Linked DNA regions of Homo sapiens: region 2 is linked to region 1. A link means that fine-mapping ties the variant in region 1 to the expression of a gene that starts in the linked region. Tissue or cell type: whole blood. Region 1 holds a variant in brackets; the other region holds the start of a gene. All regions are shown on one strand. Distances are from middle to middle.

The links. PIP is the estimated chance that this variant, and not a neighbour inherited with it, causes the effect.
Region 2: it holds the start of KLHDC10, and the variant in region 1 is fine-mapped to the expression of KLHDC10 in whole blood (TOPMed, PIP above 0.99). The same link has a PIP of 0.9 or more in fibroblasts.

Annotation. Positions count from the first base shown.
Region 1 is chr7:130,115,233-130,119,232 of GRCh38, forward strand. It overlaps KLHDC10 (kelch domain containing 10), which reads left to right. Exons shown (of 10, transcript NM_014997.4): 3 at 1,213-1,434. Among named protein-coding and RNA genes, the nearest start is that of LINC03008, 24 kb to the right of the region's middle. The variant A/G (reference allele first, on the strand shown) is at 2,312.
Region 2 is chr7:130,067,644-130,072,147 of GRCh38, forward strand. It overlaps KLHDC10 (kelch domain containing 10), which reads left to right and starts at 2,891. Exons shown (of 10, transcript NM_014997.4): 1 at 2,891-3,166. The coding sequence starts at 3,001. RefSeq lists enhancers at 2,406-2,605, 2,636-2,825 and a silencer at 2,926-3,095.

The sequences.
Region 1 (4,000 bases):
TTCATCTTTAGGGTCACAACTATAGTAGCTTCTTATTCCATCCAATATGTATTTAAGCATCTTTGGTTCTGAAGTTGGGCAAGGGTTTGTATAGATTGGTATAAACATTTTAAGGATAACAGAAACTACAATAAAGTTTTTTGTTTTTTGTTTTTTTTTACTCTAAAATAACCTTGAAGTAATTTTTAGTAAACTAGTTGAGACCGGGTGCAGTAGCTCGTACCTGTAATCCCAGGATGTTGGGAGGCCAAGGCAGGCTGATCACCTGAGGTCAGGAGTTCAAGACCAGCCTGACCAACATGGAGAAACCCTGTCTCTACTAAAAACACAAAATTAGCCAGGCATGGTGGCGGGCACCTATAATCCCAGCTACTTGGGAGGCTGAGGCAGGACAATTGCTTGAACCTGGGAGGCAGAGGTTGCAGTGAGCTGAGATCGCGCCACTGCACTCCAGCCTGGGTGACAGAGTGAGACTTGGTCTCAAAAAAAAAAAAAAAAAAAAAGTTGATATAATTTAGACTTCAGGACACTTTCAAATTTAAACTGTAGGAATAGCTTTTCTTAGTAAAGCTCTTAATAGGATGAAAGATGCTCTCTGAGATAAATATAAGGAGATTCTTTGTTAACCTCCATAATATCCGGGATGTTATTTAAAGTCAAAATTTTACTGTAACTCCTTAACAGCCAGTTTTCATTGTAAGTGTATAATTATATCTTGTGGAAAAATCATAGATTTTGTGTGTGTGTATTTTTATTTATACATGACTCATTCATATTCGTGATTATATTTATTTAGTTCTCTAATATTCACAGTTTAATTTAGTTGGCCTGTGTTTTTTTCTCCTCTAAGGAAATAAGAAAACTTGTCCTGTTAGCTTTTGGATTATTAAATCTTTCCTCCTTCTTTTCTTGAAAATTTCAAGTTGTCAGCCATTTTCTTGAATTTGTCATGCTTTTTACAGTTATCAAAATCTGAAGGTAGTCATAAAAAATAGAAGTAGAGACTAGCTCCTTAAAATCTTAAGTAGTATATGTGCATAAGAAGTATTATTAGGAAGTATATCCATGTTATAAATCTAAACAAATAAGAAGTATATCCATGTTATAAATCCTTCCTGGTCCCCTTTTATGGCTAAAATGGTTGTTACCTAATTTTGTTTGTGCTTTTAAACTGGTAGGACACCTGTGGAAAACTGTCCTCTTCTCTCCTAGGCCACAGACCTCCACCAGCACGAAGTGGACATCGTTGTGTGGCAGATAATACCAACCTATATGTGTTTGGAGGTTATAACCCAGATTATGATGAATCGGGAGGGCCTGATAATGAAGACTATCCTCTCTTCAGGGAACTCTGGAGGTATCATTTTGCTACAGGAGTATGGCACCAGATGGGCACAGATGGCTACATGCCCCGGGAATTGGCATCTATGTCACGTGAGTGCAAGCAGTTCGTAACTCCTGACTTTATGAAATGTCTGAGAAGCCAGGTTCAATGTCCCATATTCCTCATTAATAATTTATAACACTATAATGTGATTTCGCCCTGTGGGTGGATAGGCTTTTTACTAGGGTAATAACAGTATGGTGATTCCAAATTATTTGGGTCCTGAGTTTGAATTCAGCTTGTCAGGTGAGTTTTAGCTTTAATTTCCTAACTTGCAAAATGGGATTAATAATATCTTAGAGGGTTCAATATAAAGTATCACGCAGTAGAAGGTCAACAAATGGGGCTTATGACGATGACAGTTAATAGCTGTTGAGCAAAGTACAGGCATACCTCAGAGATGTCCTGGGTTTAGTTTCAAACCACCAAAATAAAGCAAGTCACACAACATTTTTGGTTTCCTAGTGCATATAAAGTTATGTTTACGCTATGCACTAGTCTCTTTCATGTGCAATAGCATTATCTCTAAAAAACTACATACCTTAATTAAAAATACTTTATTGCTAAAAAGTGCTAACAACCATCTGAGCCTTCAGCGAGTTGTAATCTTTTTTGCTGGTGGAGGGTTTTGTCTTGATGTTGGTGGCAGCTGACTTATCAGGGTGGTGGTTGCTGAAGGTTGGGGTGATTGTGGCAATTTCTTAAGACAGCATTGAAGTTTGCTGCATCAATTGGCTCTTCCTTTCACAAAAGATTTCTCTGTAGCATTTAATGCTGTTTGATAGCATTTTACCCAGAGTAGAGCTTCTTTCAAAATTGGAGTCAAGTCCTCTCAAACCCTGCCACTGCTTAATCAACTAAGTTTAAGTGATATTCTAAATCCTTTCTTGTCATTTCAACAGTGTTCACAGCATCTTCACTAGGAGT[A/G]GATTCTATCTCAAGAAACCACTTTCACTGAGCACAGTGACTCATGCCTGTAATCCCAGCACTTTGGGAGGCCGAGGCAGGAGGATCGCTGGAGCCCAGGAGTTGAAGACCAGCTTGGGCAACATAGTGAGACCTTTTCTCTACAAAAAATAAAAAAATTAACCAGGCATGGTGTTGCACGACTGTATTCCCAGCTACTTGGGAGGCTGAGGTGGGAGAATGGCTGGAGCCCAGGAGGTTGAGGCTGCAGAAGCTGTGATCATGCCACTGCATTCCAGCCTGGGTGACAGAGTAAGACCCTGTCTCAAAAAAAAAAAAAAAAAAAAAAAAAGAAAAAGAGGCCGGGCATGGTGGCTCACACCTGTAATCCCAGCACTTTGGGAGGCTGAGGCGGGCGGATCATGAGGTCAGGAGTTTGAGACCCAGCCTGGCCAACATGGTGAAACCCTGTCTCTACAAAAAACACACACACAAAAAAAATTAGCTGGGCATGGTGGCAGGCGCCAGTAATCCCAGCTACTCAGGAGGCTGAGGCAGGAGAATCCCTTGAACCTGGGAAGGTGGGGGTTGCAATAAGCCAAGATCGCCCCACTGCACTCCAGCCTGGGCAATAAGAGTGAGACTCCGTTTCAAAAAAAATAAAAATAAAAAAAATTAAAAATCTGTTGTTTAGTGTAGCCACTTAGCTAGATCTTCTGGATAACTTGCTGTAGCTTCTGCATCAGCACTTGCTGCTTCACTTTGTACTTTTATGTTATGGAGATGGCTTCTTTCCTGAAACCTCTTGAACCAACCTCTGCTAGCTTCCAACATTTCTTCTGCAGCTTCCTTACCTCTCCCCACCTTTATAGAATCGAAGAGAGTCAGGGCCTTGCTCTGAATTAGGCTTTGGCCTAAAGGGAATGTTGTAGTTGATCTTCTGTCCAGACCACTTAAACTTTCTGCATATCAGCAATAAGGCTGTTTTGCTTCCTTATCATTCGTGTGTTCACTGGAGTAGTACTTTTAATTTCCATCAAGAACTTTTCCTTTGCATTCACAATTCGGCTAACTGTTGAAAGAGGCCTAGCTTTCGCCTGCCTTTGCTTTCCACATGCCTTCCTCACTAAGCTTAGTCAATTCTAGCTTTTGATTTAAAGTTAGATACGGTAGACTCTTCCTTTCACTTCAATACTCAGAGGCCATTGTAAGGTTATTCACTGGCCTAATTTCAATCTTGTTGTGTCTCAGGGAATAGGGAGGCCTGAGGAGAGGGAAAAAGATGAGGGAATGGCTGATTGGTGCAGTCAAAACTCTCACAGCATTTATTAAGTTCACTGTTTTATATGGGCGTGGTTCATGGCACCTCAAAACAGTTACAATAGTAACATCAAAGATCGCTGATCAGTGCTGGCGTGGTGGCTCAGGCCTGTAATCCCAGCAATTTAGGAGGCCAAGGAGGGAGGATCACTTGAGGTCAGGAGTTCGAGACCAGCCTGGGCAATGTAGCAAGACCCTGTCTCTTAAAAAAAAAAAATTAGCTGGGCATAGTGGCCTGTACATATAGTCCCAGCTACCTGGACATCTGAGGTGGGAGGATCACTTAAGCCCAGGAGTTCAAGGCTGCAGTGAGCCATGTTCATGCCACTGCACTCCAGCTAGGCAAGACAGCAAGACTCCAACTCAAAAAAAAAAAAATAAATAAAGGCT
Region 2 (4,504 bases), 47 kb before region 1:
AACCCATTCCCGCCATAACAGCATTAATCCATTCATGAGGGCAGAACCTTCAGGTACTAATCATTCTTAAAGGTTCCACTTCTCCAGATTGTTGCATTGGGGATTAAGTTTCCAACACATGAACTGTGGGGGACACATTCGAATCATAGCAGTTACCCATATAGCTACTGAGCCAAATCTTGGGACTACTAAAACTTTTTATGTTATGTTATGTTATTTTATTTTATTTTATTTTTATTTATTTATTTTTTTTGAGACGAGTCTCGCTCTGTTGCCCAGGCCGGAGTGCCGCGGCGCTATCTTGGCTCACTGCAACCTCCGCCTTCCAGGTTCAAGCGATTCCCCTGCCTCAGCCTCCAGAGTAGCTGGGATTGCAGGCGCGGGCCGCCACGCCAGACTAATTTTTTTTTTTTAAATATTTTTAGTAGAGACGGGGTTTCACCGTGTTAGCCAGGATGGTCTCCCTCTCCTGACCTCGTGATCCGCCCCCCTCGGCCTCCCAAAGTGCTGGGATTACAGGCGTAAGCCCCCGCACCCGGCCATTGTATGTATGTATGTATGTATGTATGTATGTATGTATGTATGTATGTATGTATTTTTGAGACGGAGTCTTGCTTTGTCGCCCAGGCTGGAGTGAAAATGGCACGATCTCGGCTTACTGCAACCTCTGCCTCCCGGGTTCAAGCAATTCTCGTGCCTCAGCCTCCCGAGTAGCTGGGATTACAGGCACCCACCACCACGCCTGGCTAATTTTTTTGAATTTTTCGTAGAGACCGGGTTTCACCATGTTGGCCAGGCGGTCTTGAACCCCTGACCTCAGGTGATCCACCCACCTCGGCCTCCCAAAGGGTTGGGATTACAGAAAGTGTTAGGATTACAGACATGAGCCATCGCGCCCAACCAAAACTTTATATGTTATTTTCTTATTTCATCTCTCCCAGTTGATTAATTAAAAAGTGTTACTTAAGAATCTACTTTGGCTGGGCGTGGTGCTCATGCCTATAACCCAATGCTTTAGAAGGCCAAGGCAGGAGGATGGCTTGAGGCCAGGAGTTCTAGACTAGCCGGAGCAACAAGGCAAAACCACCCCCTCATCCCCACACACTGCCCTATCTCTACAAATTTGCTTTGCAAATTGGGAAAACAGCATTTCATAGGATTTCTGTGAGGATTAGACAGGTTAAACATGTAAAATGTGTAAGACTGCATTTTGCCTATATACATAAAAAACTGGCCAGACGCAGCAGCTCACACCTGTAATCCCATCACTTTGGGAGGCCAAGGCAGGTGGATTACCTGAGATGGGGAGTTGGAGACCAGCCTGACCAACATGGTGAAAACCCATCTCTACTAAAAATATAATTAGCAGAGCGTGGTGGCACATGCCTGTAATCCCAGCTACTTGGGAGGCTGAGGCAGGAGAATTGTTTGAACCTGGGAGGCAGAGGTTGCAGTGAACCGAGATCATGCCTCTGCACTCCAGTCTCGGCGACAGAGTAAGACTCCGTCTCAAAAAAAAAAAAAAACAGTTAACATATATTAATTTTGGTTTTTATATTTTAGAACCATAGGCTTTTTTTTTTTTCAAGTCTCAAACATTTTCATAAGCAGCGTGCTATGGTGCTAGTGACTAAAACATTTCTGCCTACAGGGACTGGAAGTAGGAAAACAAGGAGGCAGTGCCAGTGGCGACCAGAAATTTGCACACCAGGTACAAAGGGTATTTGTCCTCAGCTCCAGCAGAGTTTCTTTTTTTTCTCTGCAACCATGTAAGGTTCTTCTAATGCAAAAGAAAAAAAAATCTGTCACATCTAAGGACCTTGAAAAGTTTTGTTTCCCTTGAGGAATTTGATATGCTTTTTCCTTATCATTCAGAAACATCAGTGTATAGTATGTTTTCCCAGTCTGCATTGCGCCCAGTAAGTTTCAAGCCAAAATTTCTGTTTAATTTTGGAACAATAGAAACTCCTGATCGGCACATTAAAAATTTTCTTTGATCTTGATCTTCCATACCCGTTGCTGCCTTTTATTTAATTTTACATTTCCTCTTGATTATATATCTTCCAAGCTGATTAAAATTTTCTACTAGCCAAAAGGAGTTTGAGCGAACAAAAATATTTACAGAGCCATCAGCCATCTATGAGAATACCTTTTTCTTGGCATTCCACACACTGCCAGGTGTTATTTGAAAAGTCTTTACTGATGTAATAAACCAGAAATGGTTTCTCATTGGGGTTTTATTTTGTATTTCTAAGATTACAGGTGAGAGTGAACATTTTCCCATATTTGTTAACCAGGTTTAAAACTGTTTGATTGGGACGTGGCTTATACAGGGACAAATGCAGCTAAGCCGACTGAAAGACAAATGAAACCCAGGAATATCTGGTTCTTACATTTTAGCTTTGACTCCGCCCCTGGGTCCCCTCACCTACCCGGACCCCAAGCAAGCCCTTTGTGTGTGTCAACCATCAGTGAATGGGATCTCAATCTGAAAAGCTGGCAGAATACCGTCTTGCCCCCAAATATGTGTATTATGCGTATATCCAGTGTCTGATTGCAATGTTTATGGGAAAAAGTTCCTGAATCCTAACCAAGACTGAGGCACTGGCCGTCCCCGGGAGTCTTTCCGCAGGCGCGGCCTCTGACACTCGGTCTTCGATTGGCCCGCCTGGCCCCGCAGGAGTCGGGGTGACGCCGGCCAGCCCAGAGCGGACGATGAGAGCTAGGAGTGGCTGCTTCTGCCTTTCTCTCCCCCTACTTTTTTTTTTTTAGCCATAGCTATGGTTACCACGTTTCTCTCCGCCTCCCGCCACCTACCAAGAAAACGACTGACCATTGGCTGCCTTTCACCAAGGCGGTAAGTCATTGGTCTCTGGTGGGACCGGGCGCTGCCCCCTTCCCCTGTCTCCTGGGTCTCTGGAGGAGCCCAGGAAGGAGGCTCCGCTGGTTCCGCTGGGTCAGGCGCTGACGGGACCGGGCTGCGGCAATCGTTAGCGGGTCATGTCGGCCGCCCAGGGCTGGGACAGGAACCGCCGGAGGGGAGGAGGCGCCGCCGGCGCTGGTGGCGGAGGTAGCGGGGCCGGCGGGGGCAGTGGGGGCAGCGGGGGTCGGGGGACTGGCCAGCTCAACCGCTTCGTGCAACTCTCCGGGCGGCCGCACCTGCCAGGTGAGTCGTGGGACAGGGTCCTGACCGCTTGCGGGCGGGAAGGTGACTGCTACCTTTTCTTTTTCTCCCTGGCTTGCTTTTCCTTGGGAGGAGGAAAGGCAGGCCCCACGCATAGCAGAGGGACTGGGGATCAGAGAAAAGGGAAGGTGTCTTTGAGGTCAGGGAGGGAACAGGAGCACAGCGAAGAAAAGTATCTGTGCTCTGTTGAAAGCTCTGTGCTGAGAGTTGTGTTTTCTTTTCAAAGGAGAGGCCACTGTCTCATTGACATTTCCAAATGTTTCGGTTACTCGATTCCCAATCTCTTCCCCTTCCGCAGTTTGATCTTGTAAATGAAAGACATTGGCGCCTAGCTGTGGGAAATTATTTCAAAAAGGGTGCCAAGTTAAGGAGAGAAGAAGGAAACGCATTCCAAGGAGTGATTTTGTAAAAACTACACGGGGCGTGTGTGTAAGAGGCATTCTGAAACGGAAGAAAGGGGTGGGGGAGTGTTGGCTGGGGAGTGTATGGGAAAGAGAACCTAGAGGATTAGGGAAAACTAGTTGGATTATTAATATTTTGGAATGTTCAGAGACAGGATAATGGTGTCTAGGTTTTAAGGGGAGAAAGTGAAGATCAAAAATATACTTAGTGACACAATTATGCTGTGTTTACAATATAAAAACAACTGAGAATTGGAAAAATGTACCCAATACAATTATTTGACATTTTGGTCTACAGTGCCCTAGCCTTGAGTTCAGATGCTTTTGAAAACAAAATAAAATCAAGTGGATATGTATGTGTAGACAATTTTAAAGAGGTATGTTTGTAATTGAATATTCAATCTAGTAGAAGGAAGGTAGGGAATTAAATAATGCAGAGAACGTCAAATATCCCACTGGGCAAGCTTATTTTTACTATGAAAAGAACTATCAGGAATGATGTGTTAATTATTCATCGTGTTTTTTGTGAATAATATTGATTATATTAGTGATATATTTGTTTAGCTGATGAGTTTTGAGAACATGATGAATTGGTTTTTATGAATTGTGCTTAAGACTGTACCTTATACTTCTAGTCAAAAATTATTATTTGATTAAATTGAAGATGACAAAGGGAATTTAGCACATTTAATGAGACAATTGCTTATGTTCGTGATGAGGTTGTTGATGTGTGCTAGAAATGTACATTACCCCATTTATATGCATTAAATCGAGGCATTTGTAAGTAGTCATATAATATACCAGAAGTTGGGTTTGAGACGTTAATATCAGACTGGGCATCCTAGAATTGCTAAATATACGATCTTTAACATGAAAAAGAAAAAAGGAGCAATCTTTTTTCTTACTCCCAATTAATAAT